Linked DNA regions of Homo sapiens. The gene in region 2 interacts genetically with the main gene of each other region. Each region holds a gene or a part of one and is shown on either strand. Other genes may lie near its edges.

Region 1 (3,484 bases), on a different chromosome or scaffold from region 2:
CCTAATTTGCTGGGTGTATTTATCATCAAAGGGTGTTGAAATCATCTCAAATGTTTTTTCTGCATCTGTTGAGAAGATCCTATGGCTTTTTTCTTCCATTAATGTGGTAAGTACCACTGATTGCATTTACAATTATCTTCCCCCTACACAGTAACTTTACAACAGTGTTCACCTTATTTTTGTACCCTTAGAGCTTGATGCACTAAGTACTAGAGTGCTGCTCAGTGAACACAGGCTTTGGGTGGAAGAACTCATGAAGATACCACAATTCAAAAGTTACGTTAGGTTATATGTTACGTGTGTGACCCTGGCAGAAAGTTATGCCAAAATTGTTCCTCTCCCAGCAGAATTTTCATTTTTAGCATTTGCTTCATGGAGAAGCTATCTAGACAAGTGCCTTCCCAAGAGGATATTATGGGTACTGATTTCAACAAAACTGATCTTTGAATCTGATAAGTGAAAATGTTCAATTTTGTAAGTATCTTAGTGTATGAGGATGTACAGATGCAAATGGGTAGTAAAACATTTTATAGGGAAGAAGGTAAGATCAGGGTTAATTTTTTCCAAGGCAACCCTTCTTGACTCTATTAAGCACCCAATATATCAAAGATTTTTCTAAAAATAAAGATCCATAGGTGCAATTATAATGTTCTCTTAAGAGTTTATTATAAACCAGTTTCATAGGCCACAAGGAGATAAAAGGACTATGTACAGCCTTACGGGAAACAGGCAGGGAGCTGAGGAGGGCCAAGATGAGTCTAGGGCCTTGGTGGGCGCATTCCCGGGGGAGGGGGCCCTGTAAGGGAAACCAGACAATCCCATGAGACTCCACGAACAACAGCATAAGAAACAAACAGGTCTGTGGTAACGTGGCCCTGAGGAATCGAGCCCACGCCTCTGCGGAGCTACTTCCATACTCTGTGGCCAAGGGTCAAAGAAGGCCTGAAGTAAGAGTAAGAAGTTTAGTCAGTGCCTGATCTGCAACTTGAATCCCCAACCCTGCCCCAGCCTCCCACGCCCTGCAGTAATCGAGTGAGGAGAGGGGTATACATGGCATATGTGCTAACTAGGGACTACTCTGAGGCTGACTGGGTTCCTATGTCTATAAAAACCCATAGAGGAATAATCCAGACTAGAGAAACAGGGGTCACCAAGTTTGCCCATGGGTTATCTTATAGGGAAAGAACACTGGGCTTGGAGTCCAAACTCCCTGGGGGCCTATTTTCTCATCCATGTGGGGACTGATCTCAGAATTTCTCCAACTGAAGTTAAAGAGAAATCCATAATAGTACAGCAAAGCCCAGAGCCCCCTCTTAATTACTAGGCACTGTCAAACCAAAGAGCATAAGACAATCTCATAACTTCTGTTAGGGATCCTCAGAATGCATTATTTCATTGTGTCCTGAGGCCGCTGCCTTAGATATTGAGAAACACCCTGGGTGCATGGCTGCTCTAACTTTTCTAAGAGGGGAGGTAAGCCCAATTTAAGAAATGTTCCCTCTTCTCTTTCCTTTCTGGATTTCCCTAGATTTAAGGCTTGAAAGCCCATGGGATATGATCTAAATGCAATCTTCCCTCCATTTCCTATCCCACTAGGCTCTAGGGAAAGAAGCCAAAGTCACCACTGCAGGCACTTACCTCGCATCCCAGGGGGAGGAGGCCGCATTCCCGGAGGGGGCATGCCCATTGGAGTCCCTCTTCCAGGGGGGATCCCCATTGGGGGACCCATAGGAGGTCTCATACCAGGAGGTGGGCCCATCATGCCTGCAAGAGAAAAGCCCCAAGAATATAGCTCAAGTGTCTATCTTGAAAAGGTAGCAAAAAAACTACAAAGCTTTCCACCAAGTTCTGAGATAGATGGACCATTCCACCCTCTCAGCAGCTCCCAGAAAACTGACATTTGAGCCTAACACCCAGGGCTCCCAATGGCTCTTGTCCACCTAGTCTCATCAGTCAGCCACGCTGGATCTCAGAGTAATCCTGCTTAATTATACAAACTCATCATCAGCTTCAGTCAAGGTTATATCTCATCATTAATCCAGCTAAGGCATCTTCTATCAATTAGCACTGGTCTCCTTATGGGCTCCTCACCTGGAGGGGGTGCTCCTCGGCCCATAGGTGGGGGAGGACCCCCACGGCCAGGTGGGTACTGGGTTGGAGCCCCGGCAATACTGGCTGTGGCAGCAGCTGCAGCGGCTGCAACAGTACCTCTTCCTTGTGGGGTCATCACCTAAGAGGACATAAGAAGAAAGAGTTAGAAGAGTACAGTACAATGCAGCTTCCCACTCTCCTCCCCAACTTGGGGAAGGACAGTGGGAAATAACAGACACCAAATCCCTTAATGCTACAACTCTCAGCACCAGACTTCCCATCCAAAACCACATGTCGGGAAAGATCAAGCTTGAATGCCCAACTCCCATCTTCTAGACCTGAATGTAAGCATGTCCAATCCAAGTGAGAGAAGGCAACTGCATTTTCAAATATGACTCATGATTTCAAATGCTGTCATGGAAATATTTTCCTTAAATACAGTTGGCTAATTCGTACATCTCTTTAATAGCATCAACATAATTTACAATGGCAACTTATCCTTTTCACTTGCTTCTAGGGCCATGTATAAACCACAGTGAAACACTGATAGTCTGACAATCACAGGTTGGTCACTCTGGACCCTTTTAAAACTATGGACCCTCCCCTTTATCCTTTATTTTAGCCACCAGGAGGTGGTACCCTTTCCCCAACTCCTCACCTGTTGGGATGGCCCGCCAACCCCACGGACTGGCCCAGCAAGTCCTGCAGGAGCCTGGGGCATGGGAACCCCAGCTGGGATTCCTCTGCCAGCAGCCCTGCCGATCCCTGGGCCCCCGGCAGCTCCAGCAAGTGGAACTCGAGCAATACCAGTCTGAAAAATAAACAAATATGCTCTGATGCCCAGTGATCTGAAGATCAGAAGTATACTTTGGAATATCATTGCCAAGAGAGCCCCTCGAAATAGCTTATAAATACTATCGAAATAGCTTATAAATACTACCTCTCCATGTGTGCCAACACCATTCTTCCTCCATCCAAGACTATGAGTTATCCCTGAAGCAGGGTAGAACTTAAGAGTAAGTCTAGAGAAACATGCCACAACTCAACCACCTATATGCACTCCTGTGAAAGTTAAACCAAGAGCAAAGGGCCAGGGTTCCACTCAGGGTTCAGCAGGCAAGGCATTAAAGGGACATGAGATCCATTCCCAGCTGATTCTAATCCGCTAGGTGACAATGGACAAATAATCCCACAATCCCGGGCTGAGTTGCCTTATCTGCAAATGACATGGTTATGGTACAACTGGTTGTGATCACAAAGGTTTATGATGGGTTATGTTAGACCAGCCAATTCTACTGGAAGTAGGTACTAAGAGATTTGAATATGTACATGGACTTTGAACCAAGATATGCTAACATCCCTTGCAGACATTTTTAACTGGAAAAGGCAAAAA
Region 2 (2,347 bases):
TTCTTTATGCCTACCGCTGTGTCCTAGGCCCTCATCAGGCAAGTGACAGTACAGGTTGCATGGCTAACCCCAGCCTTTTGTACACCCAGCCTAGATTTCCCTTAGCCTAGTGCATTTCTCCCTGCTTCTCTTCCTTCCTGTTGGTTGTGGGTATCACGCTTGACAACATAGTCTTGAATTGAAACTGGCCTGAATTGTGGAAGGGTTAAGTGTAATGGAATTAAGTTTGGAAACAAACCAATTTAGGTTTGAATTGTGATTCTACCACTTCATCTTGACTGCCTCGCCAAGCCTCAAATTTCCTTGTTTGTCAAATGGAAACAAGCCTCAGGGTGGTAATATTAAATGAGATAATGTTTGTGAAAATTGGCCCTTAGTTTCTTGCTCTCAGTGAATGCAACAGATATGTTTCTGATGCTTCTCTGTCATCAAGGATCCCCCAGAAGAGGCAGAACTGCTGCTACAGAACCTGCAAAGTAGAGGTCCCAGAGACTGCGTGGTGCTCATGGCTGCAGCTGGGCACTTTGCTGGTGCTATATTTCAAGGGTGAGAGGGTGCTGCATGGGGGTAAGGATGGAGTGGATCCTGTTAGCCAGGGAGCACCAGCTGGTCTCCAGTACTGAGTCTGTGCTGTCTACAGAAGAGAAGTGGTGACACACAAAACTTTTCACCGCTATACGGTTCGGGCCAAGCGGGGCACAGCCCAGGGGCTTCGGGATGCCCGAGGTGGGCCATCACACTCTGCTGGAGCCAACCTGAGGCGCTACAATGAAGCCACACTATATAAGGTGAGTTAAGCCTTTTAGATCTGGTGGTACTGATCCATACTTTTTTTGCATCTCTGTTCAACTCACTGTTAAGTAGGGAGGTTTTTGACTCATATCCTTCCAATTTTCATTATAGGTAGACAAAGGTAGATGAGGGATTCCCCAGGAGCCTTAGTCCTCTATTCTTTCTCCGTGTTATCCTCTACTTTCCACCCCTTGCACTTCTGTGGGCCATTTTTTTTAGTTGGAGATTTATAAATAGCAAGTGAAGGTATGCAGGACTGAGTTACTCTCTTCTCTAGGATGTTCGTGACCTGCTGGCAGGGCCAAGCTGGGCTAAGGCGCTGGAGGAGGCTGGTACAATACTGTTGCGTGCTCCCCGCTCTGGCCGGTCTTTGTTCTTTGGAGGCAAGGGAGCACCCCTGCAAAGGGGGGATCCCCGACTTTGGGATATCCCCCTCGCCACCCGCAGACCCACCTTCCAAGAGCTACAGCGTGTGCTCCATAAGCTGACCACTTTGCATGTCTATGGTGAGCCTTTGCTCCAGATCCCAATTCCCTAGACCTTCCTGTTCTCTCCAACCTAAGCCTCCATTCTCATTGGTATATCCAGAGGATTTTCTAAGCCTTGGACTGCAGCCCAGCTACATCTGCATTGAGAGAAACCTGCGCTAGCTTCTCCTCAGCTAAGGTTGAGAAAGATCTTTTCTTTTATGGCAGAAGAAGACCCTCGGGAAGCAGTCAGACTGCACTCACCTCAGACACACTGGAAAACAGTAAGAGAGGAGAGAAAGAAGCCTACTGAGGAAGAAATAAGAAAGATCTGCAGGGATGAAAAGGAAGCGCTGGGGCAGAATGAGGAATCTCCCAAACAGGGTTTGATTACTATCTGGCAACTGTCAGATCTGAGTTTCTGTCCTAAAAATGCACTGGCAAATTCCCTACTCTCATAACTGACCCATTTCCTTATTTAAACACACACCCACAGTGTCTATCTTAGCAATTACTGAGACATGTTTAGTGACCTTTCCAAATCTATTATCTCTTTTGTTATGGATGTTTCCCCAGAGCTAAGAAAATCTTTGTGTGGAGCAGATGCGTGGATGTGTTGCATGGATCTCACATAGTTTATCTTTGATTGGATGCTGTGGTTTGAGGCTGAGGGCTGCTTCCATGCTTTCCTCTATTGTGCGGCACCCTAAGGCTACTCATACGGAGAGTCCAGGGACTTGTTCTTGTCTGGGCTGAGAGCCTCATTTCTGCATGTGATATAATGGACTCAGCTCTTGATGTGCTACTTTTATCTGGGTGACAAAATAAAAACAATTTCATTTCAGGCTTTCATTCTTATGCATCTGCTTCTACCCTCTGAGTACTCCCTAGATGGATTTCACATGTCAGGTTTTTCCCTAGGTTCAGGGTCGGAGGGAGAAGATGGCTTTCAGGTAGAGTTGGAGCTAGTGGAGTTGACTGTGGGGACTCTGGATCTTTGTGAGTCTGAAGTATTGCCCAAGCGGAGGAGGAGAAAAAGGAATAAGAAGGAGAAAAGCCGAGACCAGGAGGCTGGGGCACATCGGACT

What was found. Genes that interact genetically often act in the same process or in processes that back each other up.
Region 1: changes in ANKZF1 (region 2) and SNRPB together harm fitness less than expected from each alone (positive genetic interaction), as found in Homo sapiens cells (one large-scale study listed by BioGRID).

Annotation. Positions count from the first base shown.
Region 1 is NC_000020.11:2,460,998-2,464,481, forward strand, and holds the end of SNRPB (small nuclear ribonucleoprotein-associated proteins B and B'), read right to left. Parts: intron 2,903-3,484; coding exon 2,750-2,902; intron 2,231-2,749; coding exon 2,092-2,230; intron 2,051-2,091; exon of another isoform or gene 1,955-2,050; intron 1,765-1,954; coding exon 1,639-1,764; intron 943-1,638; coding exon 932-942; 3' UTR 797-931; coding exon of another isoform or gene 759-796; 3' UTR 645-758; downstream 1-644. UniProt on the Homo sapiens protein: Plays a role in pre-mRNA splicing as a core component of the spliceosomal U1, U2, U4 and U5 small nuclear ribonucleoproteins (snRNPs), the building blocks of the spliceosome.
Region 2 is NC_000002.12:219,232,646-219,234,992, forward strand, and holds part of ANKZF1 (tRNA endonuclease ANKZF1), read left to right. Parts: coding exon 1-38; intron 39-433; coding exon 434-546; intron 547-640; coding exon 641-788; intron 789-1,069; coding exon 1,070-1,298; intron 1,299-1,487; coding exon 1,488-1,643; intron 1,644-2,180; coding exon 2,181-2,347. UniProt on the Homo sapiens protein: Endonuclease that cleaves polypeptidyl-tRNAs downstream of the ribosome-associated quality control (RQC) pathway to release incompletely synthesized polypeptides for degradation.